Regions from separate parts of the Homo sapiens genome. Here regions 1, 2, 3 and 4 are each linked to region 5. Evidence: fine-mapped expression QTL. A gene starts in region 5. Each other region holds a variant in brackets. All regions are shown on one strand. Distances are from middle to middle. Region 1 holds the start of LOC124902866 (a long non-coding RNA gene). Region 2 overlaps ANO2 (anoctamin 2). Region 3 overlaps VWF (von Willebrand factor). Region 4 has its middle 15 kb from the start of VWF. Region 5 holds the start of CD9 (CD9 molecule).

What was found.
Region 1: its variant is fine-mapped to the expression of CD9 in whole blood (TOPMed, PIP 0.99).
Region 2: its variant is fine-mapped to the expression of CD9 in whole blood (TOPMed, PIP 0.98).
Region 3: its variant is fine-mapped to the expression of CD9 in whole blood (TOPMed, PIP above 0.99).
Region 4: its variant is fine-mapped to the expression of CD9 in whole blood (TOPMed, PIP above 0.99). The same link has a PIP of 0.9 or more in T cells, blood mononuclear cells and monocytes.

Annotation. Positions count from the first base shown.
Region 1 is chr12:6,164,455-6,170,514 of GRCh38, forward strand. It overlaps LOC124902866 (a long non-coding RNA gene), which reads right to left and starts at 5,157. Exons shown (of 2, transcript XR_007063189.1): 1 at 3,694-5,157. It overlaps LOC105369623 (a long non-coding RNA gene), which reads right to left. Exons shown (of 3, transcript XR_931588.3): 3 at 5,380-5,476. RefSeq lists enhancers at 3,357-3,636, 3,369-3,663. The variant G/A (reference allele first, on the strand shown) is at 3,441.
Region 2 is chr12:5,875,058-5,881,117 of GRCh38, forward strand. All of the region lies in intron 3 of ANO2 (anoctamin 2), which reads right to left. Among named protein-coding and RNA genes, the nearest start is that of ANO2, 67 kb to the right of the region's middle. The variant C/T (reference allele first, on the strand shown) is at 3,254.
Region 3 is chr12:6,081,736-6,085,735 of GRCh38, forward strand. All of the region lies in intron 6 of VWF (von Willebrand factor), which reads right to left. Among named protein-coding and RNA genes, the nearest start is that of VWF, 41 kb to the right of the region's middle. RefSeq lists enhancers at 1,107-1,853, 1,854-2,598. The variant T/A (reference allele first, on the strand shown) is at 1,618.
Region 4 is chr12:6,136,190-6,142,249 of GRCh38, forward strand. No RefSeq gene overlaps it. Among named protein-coding and RNA genes, the nearest start is that of VWF, 15 kb to the left of the region's middle. The variant A/G (reference allele first, on the strand shown) is at 3,230.
Region 5 is chr12:6,196,999-6,203,058 of GRCh38, forward strand. CD9 (CD9 molecule) reads left to right here and starts at 3,402. Exons shown (of 8, transcript NM_001769.4): 1 at 3,402-3,567. The coding sequence starts at 3,502. RefSeq lists enhancers at 2,274-2,886, 2,887-3,498, 4,725-5,337, 5,338-5,949.

The DNA of each region.
Region 1 (6,060 bases), 33 kb before region 5:
AGGCAGGAGAATCGCTTGAACCTGAGAGACGGAGGTTGCAAAGAGCTGAGATCGTGCCACTGCACTCAAGCGTGGGTGACATAGTGAGACTCTGTCTCAAAGTAAATAAATAGGCCGGGCATGGGCTCACGCCTGTAATCCCAGCACTTTGAGAGGCCGAGGCGGGTGGATCACGAGGTCTGGAGTTCGAGACCATCCTGGCCAACATGGTGAAACCCCGTCTCTACTAAAAATACAAAAAATGAGCCAAGTGTGGTGGCAGGCGCCTGTAGTCCCAGCTACTCAGAAGGCTGAGGCAGGAGAATCGCTTGAACCCGGGAGGCAGAGGTTGCAGTAAGCCCAGATCGCACCACTGCACTCCAGCCTAGCAACAGAGCGAGACTCTGTCTCAAAACAATAAAAAATAAAAATAAGTAAATAAAATTTTCAAAAGATGAGTTAATACAGTAAATTCTTGTCTTCTTTTCTTCTTCTTCTTCTTCTTCTTTTTTTTTTTTTTTTTTTTTTGGAGACGGACTTTTGCTCTTGTTGCCCAGGCTGGAGGGCAGTGGTGCAATCTCGGCTCACTGCGACCTCCCGAGTAGCTGGGATTACAGGTGCCCACCACCACACCCAGCTAATTTTTTGTATTTTTAGTAGAGACAGGGTTTCACCATGTTGGCCAGGCTGGTCTGAAACTCCTGACCTCAAGTGATCTGCTTACCTTGGCCTCCCAAAGTGCTGGGATTACAGGTGTGAGCTACTGTGCCTGGCCAATACAGTCAATTCTCATTATTCATAGTGGCTGTGTTTTATGGAGTCACTGCAAACACTGAATTAGTGAATGCCAAACCAGTGCTCCTAGGGGAGATACAAGGGGAGGTTCCTGTGAGCCTCTGGTCACATTTTCATCAACAAATCAATGCATAACTTTTTCTTATGTGTGTTTCTGTCTAACGACACCTTATTCAATATATATTGCTGAATAATTCACATTGAACTCATAGCCAACAGCACTATAACTCATGCCTGCACGAAGCTTAACTACTAGACATATTTTCTCCACATGACACATCACAGCTTTCTCTCACTTAGGAACTCTGGACAGCACTTCAGCATGATGCTGGGACCATTTTAAACAGTGGAATCACCAACACGCAGCAGAAAAATGCAAAACACATGGTACCAAGTAGACCTTGAAAAGGACACTTGCTTGTGGTATGAGCTGAAACAAGAAGGCAGACTGTCACCTTGTTCACCCTCTGCTGGGAATGTGCACATCCTGCCAAATTTTTCTCTGCTCTGTGTTCATGGATGGCCATGCAAGCACTGTGAGTATTGATTTTGGCAATACAAGTAAATTGTATGGAGTAGACAAATTTTTATTTTTTTATTTTTATTTTTTTGAGATGGAGTCTTGCTCAGTTGCCCAGGCTGGAGTGCAGCGGTGCTATCTCGGCTCACTGCAAGCTCCACCTCCCATGTTCACACCATTCTCCTGCCTCAGCCTCCCGAGTAGCTGGGACTACAGGCGCCCGCCAACACGCCCGGCTAATTTTTTTTGTATTTTTAGTAGAGACGGGGTTTCACCATGTTAGCCAGGGTAGTCTTGATCTCCTGACCTCGTGATCCACCCACCTCGGCCTCCCAAAGTTCTGGGATTACAGGCATGAGCCACCACACCCGGCCAGAGTAGACAAATCTTTAAATACAGAATGTATGAGTGATGAGGATCAACTGAATATAGAAAGCCCCTAGAATAGTGCCTGCCCAGTAGGAAGCATTCGATAAATCGTGTTACTTTGTAAGCTTTACAGCAATCTGCTGAGATATTGCTATTTCCATTTTACAGATGAGGAAAGTGAGTGTCCAAGAGGTTAAAGACCTGGACCTGGTTCCCATGGTTGGTCAGTGGTGGTGTTGGGACTTGATCCCAGTTTCAGACCTGGTTTAACTATTTTGTGCATTGCCTAGAACACGGGCCCCTTCCATGCTCCCTCTCCACAGGAACACAGGCATGGGTTGTATGTGATACACACGCACAGGCAGGCCCCACACACAAGCAGAATTCCTGTGTTTACTCCTTTCACAAACCTCCTTAACTCTGAGGAGCCTTAGAAACAGAGAGGTGGCCGAGCGTGGTGGCTCACGCCTGTAATCCCAGCACTTTGGGAGGCCGAGGCAGGTGGATCACGAGGTCAGGAAATCAAGACCATCCCAGCTAACACAGTGAAACCCTGTCTCTACTAAAAAATACAAAAAATTGGCCAGGCGTGGTGGCGGGTGCCTGTAGTCCCAGCTACTTGGGAGGCTGAGGCAGGAGAATGGCATGAACTCGGGAGGCGGAGCTTGAAGTGAGCTGAGATCGTGCCACTGCACTCCAGCCTGGGCAATAGAGCGAGACTCCGTCTCAAAAAAAAAAACAAAACAAAGAAAGAAAGAAACAGAGGTTTCCCAGCTTCCTGCCCAGGCCACGGAACTCCTCCCTCCGGCTGCAGAGCTCCCACCTCTTCTCCCCCATTTCTGCCTCAGCATCTCCCACCCCACGCTGGCCACTGAGGCAGCCTGGCCAAAAGGAGCTGATAGCAGGTCCTCTCAGCTTCCTCTGCAGCTCAGCCAGGGGCCACAGCTGGGCCTGTCCAGCCTCACTTGACCAAGAACCGAAGTCCCAGGAGAAAGGAAAGTGAGGCCAGGATGGTGACAGGGTGGAGAAGCTGGGCCCCCAGTGAGCCCCCACAGAGGGTAGGACACAGAGGGACAAGTGTGAGGGGCAGTAACTGCCCGTAGGAATAGTGGCCATGGGAGAGACACCGTGGTGCCCACACCCCAGTAGGTCCTCAGTAAAACTAACATCCACCTGGGCCGCACAGGTAGCCCTGCCACCCTCCAGGGCCCAGGATTCTTTGAGTGAGTTTTAGAACGCCTCTGAAATCTGGGGAGATATGACAGCCCACAGCAATTTGCATTTTTTGCTTTCCTGTTATCAGAGGTGACTAAACTCTGGCCTTCAGGCCAAATCCAGCCAGCAGACTCCTATGTGCAGCTCACTAGCTAAGAATGGTTTTTACATTTTTAAAGTGTTGAGTAACAGGAGAAAATCTGGGGTGAGAGGAAGAGAGATCATATGCCCCACAAAGCCTAGAATATTTACCTGATGAAGAAAATGTTGCCAGCCCCTGACCCAGATGGATTTAGCAGTGGAAGCCCTGGCCAACCAAGTGTGAGTCAGGGTGGCCCGAACACCAGCCCACATCCACCCATCCCCAGTGTAGACATCAGGCATGTTATTCAGCCTCTATAAGGCTCACTTTTCCCTTCTGCAAAGTGGAGGCAATAACAAGAGCTGTGTCCCAGGGCTGTGAGATTACATTAGGTGTCGTCTATGTCAAGCCTTTAGCCCTTGGCATCCTGGGCTACTGTGTGGGCAGAACATGGGTGCCGGTGACGGCAGTGGTGGCGGT[G/A]GAGAGGCGGAGAGGAGGGAAAGGGTCCCTTCCTGACCAGCTGCTGTCTCCATATCTCAGAGAAATGGGGAAACTGAATCATGGGGGTGACTCATCTGAGGTCACCAGCTATAAATAGTCCAAAGACTCATGACAGACTGCAAGCAGGTCCTAGAGTCCTTCCGTCCACAGCCCCTATCTGTGTCTACCTCGCCCACATACACCCTTTCCTAGACTTCTGTCTTGGGCCCCATTCTCACGGGACATTGCTCACCGCGGCCGACTGATTGAACGCCTCTGTTGTCTTTTTTTGCGGGGTGGGGGGGGAGATGGAGTTTCACTCTTGTTGCCCAGGCTGGAGTGCAATGGTGCAATCTTGGCTCACTGTAACCTCCGCCTCCCGGATTCAAGCAATTCTCCTGCCTCAGCCTCCCAAGTAGCTGGAATTACAGGCATGCGCCACTACGCCCGGCTAATTTTTTGTATTTAGTAGAGATGGGGTTTCACCATGTTGGTCAGGCTGGTCTCAAACTCGTGATCTCAGGTGATCCACCCGCCTCGGCCTCCCAAAGTGCTGGGATTACAGGCGTGAGTCACCACGTCCAGCTGCCTCTGTTGTCTTAGATGCCAACAGCTAAAGTTATTTCATATCCCAGGGGCATTTCATTTCAACAGGTACATTCTAAACCCCCAAATATTCACAGATATTCACCTCTAATTGCTTGTCAGTCACAATGACAGGACCAAAGCATCCCTTGATTTTCCCAGGTTCCTCCCAACACTGGAACCAACGTCTGGGGTCAGCTCTCCGAATTCTCACAGTCTCAGATGTTTGGCTCACACTCTGGAGTAGACGGGCAGATGCAAGCACATGGCTTGGCTGGGGAGTTCAGTGTAGCTGTGTTGCAGCTTCTCAGGCCTCCGTTCTCCCGCTTGCCAGCCTGCTTGATAGGGGTAAGGTCCCTCAGAGGGGACATGAGGCCCCTTTGATCCCAGAATAACAAGAGAAAGTCTGGGGGGAGAGGAGGAGGTACTGAGATTCTTGGTACCTATACTTTATGAAATGAAGAAACATCTAAACAGGGTTGCAGAACTTGTGGTCTATTTGATCCTCGTTAGTATAGTGGTGATCATCAAAAAAAAAAAAAAAAGAGCTTGTGATCTATTTGAAATAGCTACATGGCAAAGTTAACGCTTTTAATCCCAAAGCATAATGCAATCTAATGATGCTAACCCACAAAAGCAATTTCAGGATGTATTTGCAAACATTACTTTATCCTGAACTCTTAGGCAAAGTCATGCAGCAGTGAGATGAATGGGAGTTTCATGTTGAACAGTGCATATTGTTTTCCGTTCTGTCGGGGCGTCTCTGTGTCTGATGCAGCATTGCTTTTCAGGGAGATGAAGTCCCTGAAAATGAGACCCAGGTCCCGAGGTGAAGCTCCTTCTCTGGGGTGCTCCGCAGGGATTCCTAGACGGCTGTCCCCCGCTGCTGAGCCACGCTGAGCTGGCTGCTCTCACTGGAATCCTGGAACTGGCTCTTCTCTCACATGGGCACTCCAAGGGCCACCAGCATCTCCTCCTACACAGGTGCAATTTTTTTCTTCTTTTTTCTTTTTCCGTTCCAGGACACTTGTCACCGCCCTGCCCTGTCCTTTCTCCTCTCTTCCTCCCTCTTAGGAGAGTTGCCAGAGTTGCCAGTTTCTTCTTCTTCTTCTTCTTTTTTTTTTTTTTTTTTTTTTTGAGATGGAGTCTCACTGTCACCCAGGCTGGAGGGCAGTGGTGCAATCTCGGCTGACTGCAACCTCCGCCCCCCAGGTTCAAGCAATTCTCCCTCCTCAACCTCCTGAGTAGCTGGGATTTCAGGCATGCACCACCATGCCCGGCTAATTTTTGTATTTTTAGTAGAGATGGGGTTTCACCATGTTGGCCAGGTTGGTCTCGAATGCCTGATCTCAGGTGATCCGCCCGCCTCGGCCTCCCAAAGTGCTGGGATTACAGGTGTGAGCCACTGCGCCCCGCCACCAGTTTCTTCTTTTGGTGCTCAAAAAATGATTCTTCAGAACATCATGGAAAGGGAGCAAAGAAAAGAATAGCTTTACACTAAAGAAACAGGTGACCAAGGTGAACACCAACAGCCATAAGTCACGTTGATAGTGCCCTTGATATCATGGGATGAGAATGACACTTACCTCTGTGGTCTCCCTCTCCAAAACCCAAACGCCAGTCTACTCAAGAGGAAAACATGAGACACATCCCAGTTAAAGGACATTCTGCAAAATCCTGACCAGCACCTCTCAAAATAGTCCAGATCACCAAAAACAAGGGAAGTCTGTGAAACTGTCACAGCCAAGAGGAGCCTACAGAGACATGATGACTAAATGTAATATAGAATCCTGGTGGGATCCTGGGACAGAATGGGGGCAATAGGTTAAAAAAAAAAGAAAGCTGAATAAAGTGTGCACTTTAGTTAATAATATTAGTTCATTAACAGTGACATATGTACCACACTAATGTAAGATGTTAATGACAGGGGACATTAGGAATGGTGAAAAGGGATGAAAAAGAAATAGAAAAATAGAGCTGGGCGCAGTGGCTCACGCCTGTAATCCCAGCACTTTGGGAGGCCGAGGCAGGCAGA
Region 2 (6,060 bases), 320 kb before region 5:
TCTGCACCTGGCCCCTCTCTCATCACTGAAATTGTTTACATGTCTGTCTGCTATACTGGACTTCCTGAAGGCCAGCTCTGTGTCTTTTACCTGTTGAACCCCAGTGTCTGATACTGTGCCTTATATATAATAGGTGTCCAATAAATGCTTGTCCTCTTAATGCCCTGATCTGATAGTACCTGTTTCACGTCTCACAACCTAAGGAGATCATCACTAGGACAGACCATGAGATACTAAGAAGCACAGCAAGAAGATCCACCCACACAAGTTTGGATGATACCTGCCAGAGATTGCAGGGGAACGCAAGCTGGCCTGCTGGCCTCAGCACTGCTCTTAAAGGGTACTCCTTCCTGCTACATCAAAAGGCACATGAACTGATCAAAAGTTTGGACCAGACACTCCAGCTCCTGGATCCATTCCTCCATCTCCTCCCACACTAACCATCCCCGACTGATGGCCCTCCAAGGACTGGGATCAACCAAAGAAGGCAGCCATCTGTGGGAGCTTCCAGGCTCTTTAACCTTGAACCTGTAGCAGATGCCTAATAACTACCACTAACGCATTCATCATGCTGCACCGGTGACGGTCACCATCAAACACATCAGGCCGCTTGGCTCTCTCAGTATTCTTGTGATTAAGTGCAATGATCTCCAGTATACACAAGAGCAGACTGAGCTCAGAGAGGCTATGAATTGTTCAAAATCACTGCAGTGAGCAGCACAACGTGGCCACTAGAAAAAGATGATAAGTCCTAGGCTACATCTAGAATGACGGAGAGGAACAGCCCCTCTATGACTGGTTCATTTCAAGAGGTCAGGAAAATCAGAGCTCATTCAGAGAAGAGAGATGAGAAAGCTAAAGAACTCAAGCCCATAGCCAATGAAAAACGAATGAAGGAACTTGAGGTATTTTACCGGGTAGAGAGAAGGCCAGGGCAAAGATGTGAGAGAAGAAGGATGGTATCTGGCTTCAAACTGCCACTGCAGACTTAGTCGCTGTGGTGCCAAGGGGCAGGGCCAGCCCAGCTGAGGAGGAAGGAAGCATCCCCCTCAGTCTGCTATTCTGGCCATGGCCCAAATACCCATTGAAATTAAGTCCTAGAATATGATGGGGTTCTTAGAGCATTATTTTAATTACTTCACCTGCCTTTTTGGAATAAGACAGTATTTCTCCACATCTTCTTATAAGACCGTATTTCTCCACATCTGTCTTATTCCAAAAAGGCAGATGAAGTAATTAAAATAGTGCTCTTAGAACCGCATCATATTCTAGGACATAATTCCAACAGATGTGGAGAAATATGAATGCTTTTACACTGTTGGTGGGAGTGTAAATTAGTTCAACCATTGTGGAAGACAGTGTGGCAATTCCTCAAGGATCTAGAACCAGAAACATCATTTGACGCAGCAATCCTATTACTGGGTATAAACGCAAAGGATTACAAACCATTCTACTATAAAGACACATGTACTTTTATGTTTATTGCAGCACTATTCACAATAGCAAAGATTTGGATCCAACCCAAATGCCCATCAATGATAGACTGGATAAAGAAATTGTGGCACATATACACCATGGAACACTATGCAGCCATAAAAAAGATGAGTTAATATCGTTTGCAGAGACATGGATGAAGCTGGAAACATCATTCTTAGCCAACTAACACAGGAACAGAAAACTAAACACTGCATGTTCTCACTCATAAGTGGGAGCTGAACAACGAGAACACATAGACACAGGGAGGGGAACATCACACTCTGGGACCTGTCAGGGGTAGGGGGTTAGGGGAGGGATAGCATTAGGAGAAATACCTAATGTAGATGACGGGTTGATAGGTGCAGCAAACCACCATGGCACATGTATACCTATGTAACGAATCTGCAGATTCTGCACATGTATCCCAGAACTTAAAGTATAATTTTTAAAAAAGACAGTAAATAAACATTCTTTCATCAATTCCCACTTTAAAGTAAAGAGCAAATGGTTATTGAAGTGGGTTGAGTAGCGCCCTTACCCTGAAAAATTCATGTCCATGCAGAACCTCATAATGTGACCTTATTTATGGAAGAGGTTTTGCAGATAGAATTTGTTTAGATGAGGTCATAGTGGATTAAGGTGGCCCTAAACCTAATGACTGAGGTCCTTATAAGTAGAGGAAAGGATACACAGAGACACACAGAGAGAAGAAGGCAATGTAAAGATGGAGGCAGAGATTGGAGTGAAGGACTGCCAGTAGCCATAGGAAGCGAGGAGACGGCCATGTGACGATTCTCCCTCAGAGCCTCCAGGAGGAACCCACCCTGCTGGCACTTTCATTTTGGACTTCTGGATTTTGATTGTTTTAAGCCAAGAAATTTGAGGTAGTTGTTCTGGGAGTCTTAAGAGAGTTAGCAACTTAGAAATATGATTGGGTTGAGCATTTCATGAAGAGGCAGTGTGATATGGTGGCTAGAAGAACATAACATGAGGGGCCCAGGCTGGGCTCACATCCCCAGCCAACCATTACCAATTATGTGATCTTGGGCAAGCTATTTAACTTTCCTCTGCCTCAGTTTCCCCTGCTACAAAATAATAAAAGTATCTAGCTCATAAGATGTTTGTTTAAAGCAGTGGTCCCCAACCTTTTTGGCACCAGGGACTAGTTTCTTGGAAGACCATTTTTGCATGGACCTGGGGTGGGGGGATCAGGATGAAACTGTTCCGCCTCAGATCTTCAGGCATTAGTTAAATTCTCATAAGGAACGCACAACCTAGATTCCTAGCATGTGCATTTCACAATAAGGTTCACCCTCCTATGAGAATCGAATGCCGCCGCTGATCTGACAGGAGGTGGAGCTCAGGCAGTAATGTGAGTGATGGGGAGTGGCTGTAAATACAGATGAAGCTTCACTTGTTCACATGCAGCTCACCTCCACTACCGGCCCACGGCCGGGGGGTTGGAGACCCCTGGTTTAAAGCATTAATACCTATGCAGCACTAAGAGTCATGTCTGTTATCAGGGAATGTACCACTATAAATTTCAGCTATTGCAGTAAGCCAAGGCACACAAAGTTCTGGTTTTCCATTTTACTACAATCACTACTATGAATGGGAATAATAATTATGACTCTCTGTCTATTAAATGTGAGGCACTGTACAAACCAGATTGTGCGTGATGTATTTTATCTCCAATTCTTACGATAATGCTGTAAGGGAAGTAGAATAATCTTCATTTTATAGATGAAGAAACTGAGGCTCAGAGAGGTTGACTCAT[C/T]TGGTGAGGATCACACATTAAGGAGTGGTGGAATCGAGATTCATGCTCAGGTCTATAGCACTTAAGTGCTTTTCCATAATACCACGCTGCCCCCTTGGGCGGGCACCAGTTCTGTCCCCCACTGTGTTACCAGCCCTGGCACAATGCCTGGGTCATAACAAGTATGTCCAAAACACTTGATAAATTCATTGATTCACTAATTATAAGATAGATGCATGCCCCTGACATTGGCATTATTGATTTTTCTCTTAAGCTGGATTCAAATAACATAGACAAACATAGACAACATAGACAAACACAGACAAATAACATAGACAAACAAATAACATAGTACCCAATACCAATAAAGCTAGAGATCATCGATCCCTCAATGAGCCAACAGATTACTGGGAACATCACATTCCCACACTGATTTACACAGCATTTTATGTGGCCATACAAACTTGCTGGAAACAGGATCTGTTGTGACTTAGAGATGCCAGGAAAGGCAGCACTGAGATGTGAGACTCCCTGAAGAAACACACTGTCCAGTAGTACCTTCACTGAGGGTGTGGTTTTCCATAGGAGATGGAGCAGGGAACAAACGCATACCTTATAACATTTTATCCTCAAGCAGATTGCTAATCATGTCCTGCTCAGGCTTAACATTTGGTTTGAAGAAAGAAAGAGAAATTGACCATCAGGAACACTAAAAGTGGGACAGTTGGTGCGTCTACAAGTGTGGAAGGCCTGCGAGAACATGACAGTGTTCTTCATCCTTCTCCACTTAAAACATGGCTTGACACTGAAGCTGTCTGCATTTCCTGCTCCCCAGGTATAAGGATGGGGAAAAGGGAAAGGAAGCAGAAGCAGGGTCAGAGCTAAGGAGCCACGTGAAGCTGATTCCACATAAACAATTTTTTCTTCAAATCATCAATAATCAGCAGATGAAGCCGCAGGCAGGTAAATAAGAAGGGACTGTACTCAAGCCCAAGAAACAAAGCCAATTTCAGAAGCCCTTCAGTTTCTTGGTGAACTTCTGACATGATAAGATAAAAGGAAAAGTCTAAATAAACAAGTTATTATAGCTCAGATACAGATCAGAAGAGGAAAAATAATCTTAGGGAACGGTATAGTCATAAGCACGTGCTAAGTAAGCTCTCTCTCTCGATACAAGACCTGTGTGAAGCACTAGGGTTACCAGGACAAAAGACACTATTCTCATTGTCAAGAAGCTCAATATCTAGGAGGGAAACAGACATGAAAACAAATTATTACAATATTTGCAGGGTGCAATACAAGTGGGGAAGAGGAAACCTAAGGGGTCAAAGAAGACTTCATAGAAGAGACAATGCTTGAGCTAAGACCAACATATTAAGAGAAGAAAGAGCATTTCAGATGGAGAGAGGAGCAGGGGCAGGGGCTGAAGGCAAGAAGCAGCATGACAAGTGGTTTGGTTTGACTCCAGCCTAGGGTGTGCATTTGGGGTCAAGTAAAAGCAAAGAGGTAGCCAAGAGACTAATTGTGAAAGCCTGGGACAACATGCTTAAGAAGTGTGAACTCGTTCTGAGGTGCTTAGAAGCCATTGAAAGATTTTAATGAGGAAATGGCTTAATCAGATTTGCATTTGGAAAGATCACTCTGATAGAGCATGAAGATGGTTTGGAGGGGCAAATCTAGAAAGAAGTTCAATCACACAAGGGTAGATAGTGAGTGCTGGAATTAGATTGTGGCAATGGGGAAGGTAAGGTAGAAACAGATACGGGAAATGGAATTGACATGACCTGGTGTCCACCAGAACACGAGAGGAGAGAGAATCTAAGGAGGCTTCCAGATTCTGTTGTAGTTGACAGGGAGAATGGTTAAGACAACCAGCAAGACAAGGAATAAAGAAGTCGCAGGTTTTACAGAGAAGATACTGAGTTTTTTTATGAAGACCTTAAACTTGAGATGTTTCCAAAACATAAATCCAGGCATTTATGTTCAGGAGACAGACATAAGAGCCTGGGGAACGCAGGATAAGTGCAGGTTAAAGAAGAGCATTTGAGAGTCATCGTAGGTAGTTAGATAGTAACTTAGGCCACATAAATGTATGAAATTGCCCAGAAAAGTGTGTGTAAGAAGAGCAAAGGAAAGGAAAAAGGAGAGAAAAACATCTGAAGACAGAACTCTGAGAACACTGATACTTCAATGACAGATAAGGAAGAAAGAACACATGAAAGAGAATAAGAGGAAGCCCATAGAGGCAGAGGAGATTCAGGAAAGAATCATGGGCTCCTGGACACCCAAGGGAGGGAAAATGTCAAGCAGGAGGAAGGAGTCAACTGTTTCAAATGCAATAGAAAAATCAAGTCAAGCAAGGATTGAATGGATCTTCTCAATTAATAGAAATACCAAAATAAATTAAATAATAAGGAGCAGATTAGGAGTGTTCCTAGAATTTAGTAGATATTTGATAAATGATGGGTGAATGGATGAAAGGACAGATGGATGAAGAGATGGATAGGTGGATGGATGAATAGATGGGTGGGTGGATGGATGGATAGATGGGTGGGTGGGTGGGTGGATAGATGGATGAGTGGATGGGTGGATGAGTGGATGGGTAGGTGGGGGATGGATGGATGGATGGATGAGTGGATTGAGGGGTGGAATGGGTGGGTGGATGGATGGAAGCGCAACTATATTGGCTACCCCAAAATGAATCTACTATCCTCATGATGGACTGGATTTATGATGATTCTTTCCAGAACCAGAGCAATGGACAAAGATGACCTCAGAGCATCCCTTCCAGAATAAGTTGTCTAGTATTCTACGTATGTCTACAGAAA
Region 3 (4,000 bases), 120 kb before region 5:
AAGATGCTATTTGCAATTTTTTCTCTCACTCTTTCACCAGAGTGCAGTGCAGTTTTCCGAGGCTATGAGACATGAGATATCCCAACAGATTTAAATGCAGACGCAGATATGAGAGTCCAGATGATGTATCTGAAGCCAGACAGCAAGGAGATTTGCAAAACTGTAAAACAGTGTCATTTTTCCCCTAAATTATTTTTTGGCTTGGAATTTATCGTTCTTTTTATTTAAAAATATGGTGTTTTTTTTTTTGAAACGCAGTCTCGCTCTGTCGCCCAGGCTGGAGTGCAGTGGCACAATCTCGGCTCACTGCAACCTCTGCCTCTAGGGTTCAAGCAATTCTCTTGCCTCAGCCTCCTGAGTAGCTGATATTACAGGTGCACACCACCACGCCCGGCTAATTTTTGTATTTTTAGTAGAGACTGGGTTCCACCATGTTGGTCAGGCTGGTCTCGAACTCCTGACCTCATGATCTGCCCGCCTAGGCCTCCCAAAGTGCTGGGATTGCAGGCGTGAGCCACCGCGCCTGGCCTAAAAATATGTTCTTTACATTAAATATGATGAGCTTGTTATTTTAAAATGAATCAAAAAATGTTTTAAATTTGTTTTAATATCTAATATGGTAAGTATCAAGAGTTATGACCCACATAAACAAAATCTCTTTAAAGTCCTTCATTATTTTTTAAGAGTATACAGGGGCCCTGCGATTAAACAGTTGGAGAACTGCTATACAATCGTTAAATTTTAAGTTTAGCCGAAAGCTGCCTCCTTACATATTTTAAGTTAGGCCTAAAGGTTTCTCCCTACATAATGAACTGTAACCTAACTGGAGATGTAAACACACTGTAACCTCCTCTTGGGGCAGCCCACTGTTCAAACTACGTTCTAATAAGGCAAATGTTGCGCTGTAGCCAATCCAACTGTTTCTCTACCTCACTTCCAGTTTCTGTAAGTCACTTGTCTTTTTCTGTCCATAAATCTTCTTTGACCATGAGGCAGGCCAGAGTCTCTCTGAGCCTGTTCTGATTCGGGGGCTGCCTGGTTCATGCATCATTCTTTGCTCAAGTAAACCCTGTTAAATTTAATTTGTCTCAGGTTTTTCTTTTAACACTAGTGATGGGGTGCAAACCCTGAGTGCCTGAGTCCATTCCAAACCACAAATTACAGTTTTCCATCCTGCCCTCCCACTCCTGTTTCCTAGCAATCAGATTAGAAGACAGGGTCATACAGTGGCTGTAGCTCAGGTTTTAGAAGCATGGTTGGGCTAGAATCTCAACCCATCACTTTCTTTTTTTAGATGAAGTCTCGCTCTTGTTGCCCAGGCTGGAGTGCAATGGCGTGATCTCAGCTCAATGCAACCTCTGCCTCTCGCAACCCATCACTTTCAAAGCGTGTGACTTTAAGAAAATGATCTTGGCCAAGTGCAGTGGCTCACACCTGTAATCCCAGCACTCTTGTATTTTTAGTAGAGATGGGGTTTTGCCATGTTGGAAGGGTAGTCTCAAACTTCTGACCTCATGATCCACCCACCTCGGCCTCCCAAAGTACTGGGATTACAGGCGTGAGCCACCGCAACCGGCCTGATCCCAGCACTTTTGGAGGCCAAAGTGGGCAGATCAC[T/A]TGAGTCCAGGAGTTTGAGACCAGCAATATGGCAAAACCTTATCTCTACAAAAATATCCAAAATTAGCCAGGCGTGGTGGCACGTGCCTGTAGTCTCAGCTACTAGAGAGGCTGAGGTGGGAGGATCACTTGAGCCTGGGAGGCAGAGGTTGCAGTGAGCCAAGATTGCACCACGGCACTCCAGCCTGGGCAAGAGAGCGAGACTCCGTCGCAAAAAACAAAAAAGAAAAGGAAAATTATCTTGCCTCTCTGCATCCTCATTTCCCTACCTGTGAAAGAGGGGAAAAGTGGAAGAGGTTGAAAGTTGTCCAGGAGCTATTCTCCCCTTCTTAGTCACAGAATCCTCAGTTTTCAATTTCCCACCCCCACGGGGCACAGAGCTGCTAGGAATAAGATTCCATTTCTCAGCCTCCCTTGCAGCTGGGGGCAGCCATATGACTAAGCAATACCCAGTAGGCTATAAGCAGAGGGGTCTTGTGCAACCTCCACCAAGTGTCCTCAAAATAAGGGACTGCTTCTTCCTTAGTCCCTTCTCTTTCTACTGCGGGAATGTAGTTGTGATGCCTGAAGCTTGAGCCGGCGTTTTGGTGCACAAGGTAGAAGCCCCCACTGGGGACAACAGAGAAATAAGACAGAGGGACCCTGGATCCCAACACCATGAGATCTTGCATGGCCCTGGACATCCTACCCCAAACTTCTTTACATGAGAGATAAATAAACTTAGATTGTATAAGTCCTGTCACTCACAGCTGAACCTACTCCTAACTGACACAGACAGCAGTACTTGGACCTACCCTAGATGGTTTCTGCAAAATGAAATCAAATGAGATGACACCAGGAAATCAAATGCTTATAACTATTCTCATTTGCCTGCAATCGGTACTGGCTCCTCAGTTCTCTGCTAAACCATTCTGGCAGGGATGCAAAACAAGGGCCAGCTAATTTGCACACTTCCAGCATCTCCCTGGCTCCAAGGCCCTGCATCAGCTACTCCTGTCTTCTTTCAACTCCTGTCGGCCGTGCCAGGAGCTGCGGGAGAGCAGCTGCCCCAGCCCATCCAGCCATGACCTCACCATGCCTGGGTTGGTGTGCAGGCCCAATTGTGGCCCATCTTAATCACATTTCCAGTTCATTAAAGAAGACCAGGCATCTTCCCTGGAGACATCAGGCGGGTGCAGGGGAGGAGGAGGGAAAGCAAGCACATCTCAGTGGCAGGCAGCAGGAGGAGAGAAAGCAGAGCCAGAGATCTGAAGCTTAGCTATTGTGTTTGCTCCCAAGCAGCTGACAAAGGAGAAGGGAGGGGGACATTCCTAGGACTGAGTGAACAAAGAAAGGAAAGTCTAATACATAGAGTGCAATATTGTTCCACAAGCCCTGATCTTTCTAGCTCTGGGATGGGTGCCCTGCAGCAGCCCCTGGTAGGTATGGAGGCGCCTGGAGTCTGAGCTGCTCCAAAGTAGTGGGTTCAAGAATTCACCCTGCAGCAGGGAATACTTTCTCATTGGTCAGCTGTAATGATGGGTGGGGGAGGGTAGCTGATTCTATTTATAACTTCTGGCCGGCCCAAGATTCCCACCCGCATTCCAAGATTCTGACTCACAAGGACCTGGTGAAACCTGTTGATAGATTTCCACCAAATGGATGGTTTCTGCAGAGCTTGACATTCCTCTCTCTAAGATAGCTGGGGTCCAGTGCTCATGAGAAGTAGGAGACTTGGCCATGGACCTCTCTAAGGGACCCTCCTCACCTTCTCCTTGGGGCTCCTGGAGGCATCTGAGCAGCTTCTAGGGATTAGGGCATGCTGGCTGGATGGACAAGGACGGGGCACCATTCCCTGGTTCCCAGTCTAGGGCCTACCAAGCTCTGGGGATGGAAAGCAGCCCTTTCTGAATCACTCACCCATCCTGCTCCCAGCAAGAAAAAAGCATCAGCTCTGTGACAGGAGCTAATTCCCCTAAGCTGCGCTATCACTTACCATTCACTTGGCGATTTGTCATTTACTAACCCCAGACAGTCTTTCATGGTTTAATTTCTCTTACGTGTCTTGTCCCTTAGTCTACGTTGTATCACGCAAGCCATATGAAACATCTCAGTGAATATGCACTTATGGGCACCATCAGATTCTTGTCCATTCTGTTGCTCACCAGGGAAAAGGAAAAGGGAAAGGAACCCACCTGAGAAATAGTTCGTTAAAGGATTTTGGGAACATTATGTTAGGGAGGCCTTTGAATTGAATGCTTGGGTGCTAGGTCCTTATCCAACTCTCCTCAAGGGCTTGTCAAATGAGCAACATAAAAAGCCAAGTTCCAATGAGAACACATGGACACAGGGAGGGGAACATCACACACCACGGCCTGTGGGCGGGGAGGGGGGGCGCGGGGGG
Region 4 (6,060 bases), 61 kb before region 5:
GTTCACGCCATTCTCCTGCCTCAGCCTCCCAGGTGGCTGAGATTACAGGCATGTGCCACCACACCCAGCTAACTTTTGTACTTTTTAATAAAGACTGGGTTTTACTATGTTGGTCAAGCTGGTCTCAAACTCCTGATCTCAGGTGATCCGCCCACCTCGGCCTCCCAAAGTGCTGGGATTACAGGTGTGAGCCACCATGCCTGACCTAAGGATCTAGTAATCTAGGATGATCTATCTTGCCATCCTTGATTACATGTTCATAGCCAGGTTGACAGAAGAATCCAGGGGGTTACCAGGTGCTCAGTAAACAAACTCAAGGATCTGAAATCTTCACTCCATCCCACTTGCTGCTTCCTTCTTCCCAAGCCCATTATGACTCCTTTAATGACCAGCAGCCCAGCGACTTTCCTCTGGCATGGCCTCAAGCACTGCTTCAGCTCCACCAGGAGCACCAAGGCACTAGAGGCCAGGCAGGAGCAGCCCAGGTGGAAGGCCCCAGGGCGAGGAGGAGCCCCAGCAGCCTGCCTCTTTCCCTTTCGGTGGGCCCTTCTTCTCCAACCTCCCATCCAACAGTCAGCACACGTGCCTTCCTCCTGCACCCTTGCTGAGCACACGCCCACGTCCACCCTGACCCCACACCCTGCACCCCAGAATGTCTGATTGGTCCCCGGAGGCATTGCTTCCCAGACACCTCTTGTGTTCAGCTCACACTGTTCCACCATCCAAATGTCCTGCCTCCTCCCCACTCCTCCTCTCTCCTGTTCATCCTTCCATGTCCCCCTCCTGCAGAGGGAGAATTTGTCATTTGGTGAACACCTTGCAAGTACCAGATACTCTGCTAGCTGCTTGTGAACACTGTGTTACTTCATCCTCCTCTGTGAGTGTCCCAGTGCTGCCGTAACAAATCACCACAAACCGAGTGGCTTAGAACAGCACAAATGTCTTCTCCCACAGTTTTGAAAGGAAGAAGTCTGAAATCAAGGTGTCCACAAAGGCTGTAAGGGAGAGACCTTCCTCACCTCTTCCAGCTTCTGGTGGCTTCAGACTTTCCTTGGCTTGTGGCAGCATCACTCTAATCTCAGCCTCTGTCTTCACATGGCTCTCTCCTCATCTCCCTGTGTGTCTCCCACTGTATATTTCTTATAAGAACACCTGACATTGAATCTAAGTAATCTGGAAGGACCTAGTAATCTTTTTTTGGTTTTTTTGTTTGTTTGAGTCGGAGTCTCACTGTCACCCAGGCTGGAGTGCAATGGTGCAATCTCAGCTCACTGCAACCTCTGCCTACCTGGCTCAAGTGATTCTCTTGCCTCAGCCTTCCAGGTAACCAGGATTACAGGTACGTGCCAACACACCCAGCGGATTTTTGTATTTTTAGTAGAGACAGGGTTTCACCATGTTGCCCAGACTGGTCTTGAACTCCTGACCTCAGGTGATCCACCCGCCTCAGCCTCCCAAAGTGCTGGGATTACAGGCGAGAGCCACCGCACCCAGCCTCTTTGTTTTTGTCAAGGTGGAGTCTCACTCTATCACCCAGGCTGGATTGCAGTGGCACAATCTTGACTCACTGCAGCCTTCACCTCCGAGGTTCAAGTGATTCTCCTGCCTCAGCCTCCCGAGTAGCTGGGATTACAGGCACCACCACCACACCCAGCCTTTTTTTTTTTTTTTTTTTTTTTTGGTATTTTTAGTAGACAGGGTTTTGCCATGTTAGCCAGTCTGGTCTCAAACTCCTGGCCTCAAGTGATCTGCCCACTTCGGCCTCCCAAAGTGCTGGGATTACAGGCGTGAGCCACCACACCCCGCCTAAGGATCTAGTAATCTAGGGTGATCTATCTTGACATCCTTAATTACATCTGCAAAAAGCCTTTTTCCAAGTAAGGTCACATTCACAGGGTCCAGGAGTTAGAATGTGGACATGTCTTTTGGGGGTCACCATTCAATCCACTGTACCTTCTAACAACCGTTTGAGGGAAAGAGAGCGTTACTCTCATTTTATAGTTGAGGATGCTGAGGCTCAGACAGGGTAAGGGCCTTGCCTAGGATCACACTGCTACCAAAGGCAGCCAGCATCTGAATCTACCTGATTACAAAGTCCGTGTTTTCTCCACTATACCTATAACTCTTCCATAAGCCTTTTCTCCTTTCCTCCCACCCTTCACCCCCGCTTTTCCTGCCTTTGAACCACCTCTGGGTGCTTCTGTGGCCCTCTCATCTTTTCATGCATTTTTCTTTTTTTTGAGACGGAGTCTCGCTCTGTTGCCCAGGCTGGAGTGCAATGGCGCGATCTTGGTTCACTGCAACCTCTGCCTCCCTGGTTCACGCCATTCTCCCACCTCAGCCTCCCGAGTAGCTGGGACTACAGACGCCCACCGCCACACTCAGCTAATTTTTTGTTTTTATATTTTTAGTAGAGACGAGGTTTCACCGTGTTACCAGGATGGTCTTGATCTCCTGACCTCGTGATCTGCCCGCCTCGTCCTCCCAAAGTGTTAGGATTATGGGCATGAGCCACCGCTCCCAGCCTTTTCATGCATTTTTGTTTGTCTTATCTCCTCCAGTCTGAGCTCTCCTTAGAACAAGACCTTGCCTTACTCATCTCTGTATCTTCCAAAGTGCTCTGTCTGGAGCATAGCACATGGTAAGTGCTCCATAAATGTCTGTTGAACTCCCTGCTAGTAGAACAATGATGTGGGTTAATTAGCATATAATATTAAAATGTAGCTACAGAACTGAAACTGCAGATAAAAAAAATTGCTTAATACCCAAGGAAGTTGTTGCCTGCTCTCCAAATCATCAGCACAGAAGATAGCACTCGTCACTGTGGTTGGGGAAATTGCACGGTGAAAGTCACAGGATGGCTCTGCAAGGGGGCAGGGACATCAGACTGGGGTCACGTTCCCATGTGGTATTCTGCGCCTGTAACTCATATGACACTCTGGCACTATTTCTAAATAACACTCAAGTGTCTGTTTTATCAGAGTATAACACACTTGGCTGGAATAGTTCACTTACTGATATTCCACAATTTATGTAACCAGTTCCATATTATGGGATATTTATTTAGGTTAGTGCTACTTTTTTTTTTTTTTTTTTTTTTTTGAGATGCAGTCTCGCTCTGTCACCCAGGCTGGAGTGCAGTGGCGCAATCTCGGCTCACTGCAAGCTCCACCTCCTGGGTTCATGCCATTCTCCTGCCTCAGCCTCCCGAGTAGCTGGGACTACAGGC[A/G]CCCGCCACTACACCCGGCTAATTTTTTGTATTTTTAGTAGAGACAGGGTTTCACCGCGTTAACCAGGATGGCCTCAATCTCCTGACCTCGTGATCCGCCCGCCTCTGCCTCCCAAAGTGCTGGGATTACAGGCGTGAGCCACCACTCCCGGCCTACTTTTTTTTTTTTTTAATTAACAATGCTGCAGTGAACATCTTTGAAGCTATATCCATGCACAACCCTCAGGATTACTCCCACAGGATGAAATCCTACATGTGGAGCACTGGGTCAGCCACCGTCCACATTTTCAGTGAGGCCTTTGACAATAAGGCCAAATGGCCCCCCTGAAAAATTGCAATGGTTTATAATGGTTGCAATGGTTTAATTACCCATTTGCTGAGTAGGATTTTGCCAGGTGAAAATGAGGGCAAAGGCACATCAGCTGCAAGGAAGGAAGTAAAAGCTTAGAAGCAGGCAAGCTCTGAGATGCTAAATCAGTAAGTAGGTGAATAAGCCAGTTGTTACAGCCTATAAAGGAGACTCACAGGAAAAGAGACCAAAGAGAGGAATAAGAGGCAAGTCCTCAGGGACCTTCAACCAGTGTAGGGGTTTATGTTCATCCTGTGACACCAGATGAGGCCCTCTGGCAGCAGTGGCATGTATTGTGAGAGGTCAGATGGAGAAAGGGAGATCCATTAGTGGTTGGTGGAACCTTCCCGGACAGGGAAGACGAGGGCCTGGAGGAGACCATGGGTTTGACAAGAGAAGAGCAGATACAGCCAACCACGTAACACATTACGGTAGCAGAAGAACAGCCAAAGATGTCTACATCCCATCTCAAACCTCTGAATGCTACCTTACATGGCAAAAGGGATTTTGCAGATGTGAGCAAGTTAAGGGTCTTGAGATGGGGAGATGATCCTGGCTTACCCCAGAGTATCCTGCTGGGCCGATATAATCACAAGAGTTTTTATAAGAGGAGCAGGAGGGTCAGCATCAGGGAAGGAGATGTGATGATGCGAGCAGAGGTCATGCAACGCGGGGCCACGAGGCAAGGAATGTGTGCCCCTGGAAGTGGATAGAGGCGAAGAACAGGTTCTCCCATAGAACCTACAGAAGGAATCCAGCTCTTCCAACACACCTTGATTTTGATCCAATTCGAGCTTCTTACAATTACGAATTGTAAGATAAATTTGTGTTGTTTCAGGCCACTAAGCTTGTGGTCATTTGTCACTGCAGCAATAGAAAACTAATATAGGCCAAGATATCATGCCACACAACCTGCTCCCTTGCCCTCATGGAGGGTGTCCCAAGGCAGCTTTGCCAAATAAGTTAGAGGACAATTAGTGCTGTGAGGCTCAAGGAAGAAGGATCCCTGAGGACCACAGTATGAGAGCCATTAGAACTTGGGCTGATGTAAACAGCATTAAGTACAAATGGGAAGGGTGCGTGACCTCTGGGGGCGCATGGGGCAGGGCTGCTCAGAGGCAGGGGGATGGGTAAATTGACCTCTGCCTGTCTGAGGAGTAAGTTCTCCAGGTAACTAGTACAAAAGCAAAAGAACCTCAGGGGAGGAAAGGTTTTCTAGGAGGACCCATCTTTGTCTTTTCTTTGTATATTTGTAGCATCTCTCTTACGTAAATTCTGCAGGAAAGAGAATTTTCTTGGCAGTATGCGCCAAATAAATAAACACAGCAGTATTTCTTAGGCCAGACGACCAGCTCCCAGCATAAAGCTGTAGCCCCCAGCGGAGAGGAAGCTGTCCTCCTCTACTTCCTCTCTTCTAAAGACAAACATCTTGTGCAAGAATAACATGCTCACTTCCTTCACAATCATCAAAATAGAGAGGACCCACCCACGCTACAATGTCAGAAGAATGGTGCAGCTTCAGACTCATCTTCCCTGGTTCTCAGGAACAATGACACCACATTATTGCTGCTATCGAGCTACAGAGAACTCAGACCATTACATCTGGTGGCATTCCTGGCCCCAGTAGTAGCACAGCAGGATTCCTGACCCCAGAATCACTATCTCAAGACCTGGGGTTCTAATTTGAGAGGCAGAAAGTTACAGCAACTCAAATTTATATGCATCTTACAAAATAGCTTCAAAATACATAAATTGACAATTGACTTCAAAAAGGCTTTCTCAATTATCCATAGGTCAGGCAGATAAAAATCAGTAAAGATAGAAATTTTAAAAACAATGATCAGCCTAGGCAACAAAGTGAGACCTCATGTCTACAAAAAAAAGAAAAAATTAGCCAGGTGTAGTGGCACACATCTGTCATCTTAGCTATTCAGGAGGCTCAGGCAGGAGGATTGCTTGAGCCCCGAAGTTCCAGGCTGCAGTGAGCTATGATTGCACTGATGCAGGGCAAGTAAGCTCCCAAATTGGGACTTAGCCCTGGAAGATTCTTGGCTTTGCTCAGGAAAGAATTCAAGAGCCAGCTGGTGGTAGAAGAAAACAGCTTTATGGAGGCAGCAGTGTGACAACTTTATGACTACTCCTGCAGAGCAGGGCTAACCCCTAGGCAATGTGTTGAGAGCACCAGCTCAGGGGCAGGTCAACAGTCATACATATACCCACTTTCAATTACTTGCAAGTTAAGGTATTGAGAGGTGACAGCGTGCTGGCAGTCCTCAGAGCCCTTGCTTGCTCTCAGCACCTCCCCTGCCTGGGCTCCCACTTTGGCGGCATTTGAGGAGCCCTTCAGCCCCCCACTGCACTGTGGGAGCCACTTTCTGGGCTGGCCAAGGCTGGAGCCCGCTCCCTCAGCTTGCAGGGAGGTGTGGAGGGAGAGGCGCGAGCAGGAAGCAGGGCTGCGTGCCGCGCTTGCGAGTCAGCTGGA
Region 5 (6,060 bases):
GCATAGCTTTTTTTGTTTTTTCTTTTTGAGACGGAGTCTCACTCTGTCGCCAGGCTAGAGTGCTGTGGCGCGATCTCGGCTCACTGCAACCTCCAACTCCCTGGTTCAAGGGATTCTCCTGCCTCTGCCTCCCGAGTAGCTGGGATTATAGGTATGCGCCACCATGCCTGGCTAATTTTTGTATTTTTAGTAGAGATGCGGTTTCACTATGTTGGCCAGGATGGTCTCGATCTCCTCACCTCGTGATCCGCCCACCTTGGCCTCCCAAAGTGCTGGGATTACAGGCGTGAGCCACTGCGCCCGGCCGAGAAGTGCATAGCTTTTTAAAAAATCTTTGTAGCTATCTTATTTAGGAATGGGAGGCAGGTTTGCCTGTGGCAGTTCCCAGCTTGATTTTTTCCTTTGGCTTATTGATTTTGGGGTCCTAAGATTTATTTTCCTTTCACAATACTCTTGTACAGGTGAGGAGACTGAGGCCCAGAGAGGAGGCTGCCTGCCTAACATAGACCAAAGGGTCAGAACCAAGAGTAGAACTCAGACCCCCTCACTTCAGGCCCAATGCTCTCATCACATAAAAAGGATGCCTTGATTATACGAATGTGGCACTGAACTATATAGGCTGACCCCAATTCTTTCTTCAGTGTAAACAATAATAGGAATAGGAGCAACAGGCAGCGTTTCTGCAGCGCTTCTGTGGCAGGCAGGTTCTAAGGCCTCCCTGTGGATTTCCTCTGTCAACACTCACGTTTACCCTAATAAGTAATTTCTATTATAAACTTAAATATTTACTGAACTCCTCCCACCAGTACTTGTTAACTTGGGAGAAGGGGGAGATGCAATAAAATCTTTCTTTTCCTAAGACCTGTCTCCCAAGATAGATGGACGCAGGCCCAAAAGGGCACAATGGAACACTGACTGTTTTCCGGCCTCCTTCCCACCCTCCAGGGTGCTTCACACTCCTCCCCTGTGCTGGAATCATCCTGGACACTGGTTAGGATGTGTAAAGTCAAGCATCACCAAAATTCCTCTGCTTGTCCTCTTGGCATTAGGCTCAGTTTAGGCCCTGCCTCTCCTTCCTTGTCCTCCTTCCTCCCCATGTACCACTATCGGTTGTTTCCCCAGTGCAGCCAGCTGCCCGCTTCTGTGTCTTTGCATATCCAGTTCCCTCTTGGAATTCCCTCCTCCGCATTGACTACTGACTCCACCTTCCCAAGTCAAGTCAGCTGCTGCAATGTCCCCTGCTCTGGGGAGCCTCTCGGACTCAGATTGACGTGGGGATGTGCCCTGTGCCCCTACTTGTTACTAGCTTCTGCTGCTCTGCCTCTGATCTCTCCCTCCCCTTCCCGGCCTGACACCTCATGGGGTTTTGCCCTGCCTTCTCTAGGCTTTATCCCATTGCCCCGCCTTCATTCATTCTTCTCTCACCTGAACTACTCCACAGCCTCCTAGCAGATTTGCACCTGGTCCTCAGCTCAACTTTCATCTACCACTGCTCCCCTCATATTACCTGATTGCGTCTCCCCAAATACAACATCTCCATGTTCCATGCAATCCCGTAAAGCACTGAGCCAAGGACTGGAGATGCCAACAATGGTCCTGGTCCTCAAGGGGCTTCCTACCTGCCCCTCCGGCCTTCCCCCACCCAACTACCTAAAACACAGGCAGAGAACCTCTGAAAACACAGCAGATCCAACCATTCCCCTGCTTGAACCTTTCGGTGGCCCCTAATGCTCAGAGTGCAAAGTCCAGGAGCACAAGGCTCTTTCTCACCTTCCCACAAACTACCCCGTGACTCCAGGCTCCAGCCCAGAGCCCGGACAGCCCCTGCCCCAGCCTTTGCCCAGGATTCTCCCTTGGCGGCAACTTTCCCTGTGGTTCTGCAGCATCATCTCCCAGTCTGGGTCAGAGGCCTCTCCTTAGCCTCTTAGCCCCCAAGCCTCTCCCCGTAACTGCACCTATCACCCTCAAACCATTGTCTGGCTGCCTGTCTCCTCCCACACTGGTCCCTGAGCAGAAACAAGGACTAATCCATGTTTTTCAGCTCCTACCCCTAATGAAATACCCTAATAGATACTGAAAAATGTTTTTGAACCAATGAGACAAGTCTACTGATAATAAACAGGCAAATAACAGCAATGTGCTAACAGTGGCTGTTTCTGGTGAGCAGAATTTTGAGGTCTGTTCCTTTCACTTCTTGGTATTTCGGTTGTTTCTGTAATGACTGTATCTTGCTTTTGTAATCATAAAGGACAGTAAAGGAAACTTCATTTTGAAAATAATACAAAGGGATTCGGGGACTTCAAAAGAAGGTGACTCTCCTCGTCCACTCCAGAGAATCAGGAAAGGAGTGTTTAAAGACCCACAGAATTCCTACAAGTGACGTTGGGGGGGGGCCAGCCAGCCAGGGCGCATGCCGGCCAGCGAGTGGGGTGGGCTCTGGGTCCGGGAGAAGTCAGATCAGTGCTCTGTACAGGGCCTTGAGGGCAAGACGAGGAATTTCGACTTAGGTCCTTGAATCTGGAGAGCTACAGAAAGTTTGTGAGCTCAGGAGAAGCGCTCCGAGCTCGGCATCTGGAGCAGTTCAAGGCAGCAGCGAGCAAGTCCAAAGACGCAGGAGGGAGGGTGGGGTGGAGGAGTAGAGAGAAAACAGAAGCCGTCTACAGACCCTTTTTCCCTCTGGGGCAACTAAACCTCAAGTGCAGGAAGCGCTTGGGGACTGCCCAGCCCTCAGCTGTGTTATTATTCGGTGATAGGTATTTGCTAATTACTTCCAAAAGCCTCCCATCTGTCATCCCACCCAGACTGCGCGCTTCTAATTCCTCCTACCCCACATGCTGTGCCCAATGAAAAGTATGGTCAGCGAGCGAAGGTTTGCAAGGAGACAGACGAGGGCGAAATTAAGCCAGGCGGCTTCCCTTTAAATCCTCGCAAAGCAGAAGGGCCCCTCACTCTGGCAGCAGGCCTTGGCCAAGGGGCCTTTAGCCCTGACGACCCGGGGAAGAGTCTCCCAAAGCAGAACGCCCGGTCCGGCGCCCAGACCAAACGCGGGGGAACCGGAAGGGCGAGGCCTCCACGTAAGTCCGCGGTAAAAGTGGCAGGGAGTGGCTGCCTGCAAAGACCCCAAGACGGCTTGAAGAAGGAGTGGGTGGCGGGTGGGGGTTAGGGCGACTAGGCGGGGAAACAGGGAGAGGGTCGGGCTCCGCGGGGCAGCTGGGGCCGGGGCTCGCCGACCTGGGCGGGGGCGGGGGGCGGGGGGGGTGCGGCCCGGGCGGGGCCGGTGGGGCGGGAGGCGTGGCCGGCGGGGGGAGTGGGGGCGGCTTTTCCCGGCACATGCGCACCGCAGCGGGTCGCGCGCCCTAAGGAGTGGCACTTTTTAAAAGTGCAGCCGGAGACCAGCCTACAGCCGCCTGCATCTGTATCCAGCGCCAGGTCCCGCCAGTCCCAGCTGCGCGCGCCCCCCAGTCCCGCACCCGTTCGGCCCAGGCTAAGTTAGCCCTCACCATGCCGGTCAAAGGAGGCACCAAGTGCATCAAATACCTGCTGTTCGGATTTAACTTCATCTTCTGGGTGAGTGAGCGCGACTGCCGCGCGCTCCTCTCAGGGCCCACCTGTTCGCGGGCCCCGGACACTGGCCGCGGCCGCGAGTGCCGGCAGCTGGCACTGCCCGCACCGGGCAGGCACCGGGCGGGAAGAGAGAGCGCCCTGCGGCTGCCAGCTGGCTCCAAGGCCGGGTCCAGAGCCGGGCGGGACGGCCGCGACGGGCGCATTCGGGTGGGGGCTCATCACCGCCCAGCCGGCGTGGGGAGCCGGGCCCTCTTGAGATGAGGCGTGCGGGAGGGTCCTGAGCACTTTAGCTCGCCTAGGATTTGAGCTGGGGTGTGTGTCTGCTCCCAGCTCAAGTCCCTCCGAGTGCCAGAGAGGAAGGCAGGGAGAAGCGGAGCACCCCTCTTTGGGCCAAGGCCAAGGAGGACTGTGGTGAGCAGTATGGCTTGTGACCGGGTGGGGTCTCCCAGGTAGTAGGGGGCGCCAGGAAGGGAGGGTGCGGGCACGGCGAGAGCTCAGCCAAGAGCGGCTCTCACTTTTACGCAGGAGCGGCAGGGGTGCCTCGGCCGCGGGTCCGGCCCCGGGACCCAGTCCCTGAGAGTCGGGGGCCCCTCCACCCTTGAGGAGGAACCTCGCAGGCCCCCGTTCCCTCAGACTTTGATTCTGAGCCACCGTGAGAGCGCCGAACTCCCTGGTAGCTCCCTGAAAGACTAGCTTGTCTTGATTTCTTTCAAGGACGATAAGTATCTTCACTGGAGAGAACTCAGAGTTCGGGAGAGGAGGGGGCAGATACCTATCTGCGCCTCTAGTGGGATGAGTCCTGTGTGTGCATTTCCGGGAGAGATCAGGTGCCAGCCAGCTGCCCGCCCAGGAGAGCCTTGGCCTTGCCCTCTCCCCTCCCCGCCAGCCCAGGCGGCCCACCCAAGGCCAGGCAGGGCGCAGAGCGGACGTTCATCTGGAGAGGCCAGCGGGGCCAGGAGCTCCAGAGACACCTGCTGCAGGCCACTCAGCCTCTACAAATGGGAAGGCTGAGAGGCGACAGAAGCAAGGAATAGGAAACCCTTGTGTCCTTGTTTCTATAGCCACATTCCCTGCACACACATGACAATACTTGCCGCTCTGCAGGCAGGAAGAGAGTCTCTATGCCACTCTCAAGATAGATGGATGTAGAAACAGGTGCATGCCACCAGAGTCTTGTAACAAAAAAGTGCACTTGGCCAGGCACAGTGGCTCATGCCTGTAATCCCAGCACTTTGGGAGGCTGAGGCAGGAGGATCGCTTTCATCCAGGTTCAAGACCAGCCTGGGTAACATAGTGAGACCCCCATCTCCACAAAAAAATAAAAAATTAGCTGGGCGTGTTGGCATGCACCTGTGATCGCAGCTACTCAGGAGGCTGAGATGAGAGGATGGCATGAGCCTGGGAGGTCAAGGCTGCGGTGAGTCATGATTGCACCACTGCACTTAGCCTGGGTGACCTAGTGAGCCCTGTCTCAAAAAAAGTAGAAAAGAAACAAATGCACTTATTCCCCCTGGAGCTGGTCACTGAGGTCCCCACAAGCCTCCTTAGGGAAATCTTCTAAGATTCACTCCTCCCCAGAGCTGAAGGGGTGGTTGAACAGTTTTTCCAATTTGCAGAGACTGACTTCCCCCAGTGCATCAGTCACCATAACACACACCCCAGTGAGGACGGCATATAGGTGTGCTCCTTCCCAACCCTTGACTTGCTTTAAAAAGACCCTGCTGGCCGTGGGCACCCCTCCTCCTGTGTTGCCACCCACCCCAGCAACCACCCAGCTGCCACGCTTAGCTTCTTTCTTTCACCAATCCCTGGCAGCAGAAAAGTATGCGGGAAGGCAGCTGGCCTCACCCACCCTTGAACTTTGGGAGTTTTCCTCTCCCCTCCCAGGTACAGTCTCTCCCGGCTGGTGTGTTGGTTAGTCCTCAGCTGTCTGCCTAGACTGCATCCAGGTTTGGGACTGCAGGGAAACACAGACTGCCACAGTGTGCCTCCCTACCCCCATCTGCCCCATGGCATATGCAGGAAGCTGATGCGAGGCTCACAGGGCCACTGGTATCTACTCTGTCTGTGGCCTGCTGGCCTGCAATCTGTCCGTACTGTCCTCAGCCTGCCACCCCACTCGTATTCAGAACCCCCTATGCCTGGCCCCAGCCTAGGTGCAGCTGATGACCTATGTAGTCTGAAACAGAAATCACTCACACTGGAAATGTTTGGAATGACTTTTGAAGATCATGCAGTCCAGCTCTCTTATTCATAGTGAGGCAGCAGAGGAAGAGAGATGGGGTGATTTACCCAGGATCGCAGAGACAGAGCCAGTATTACAATTCCTGGGGCCCCTACTTTACTTCTGTCCTCTTCCATCTTCATCAGAGGCAGGAAGATGGGCAGTAGCTATGTTTTCCTGAATTACTGTTCATTTGTCCTGTATCTGGGTCCCTGTGGAGATGAAGCCCTCATCCCTAGGAGATGATGTAATGAAAAGGAAGACTGTGGTCG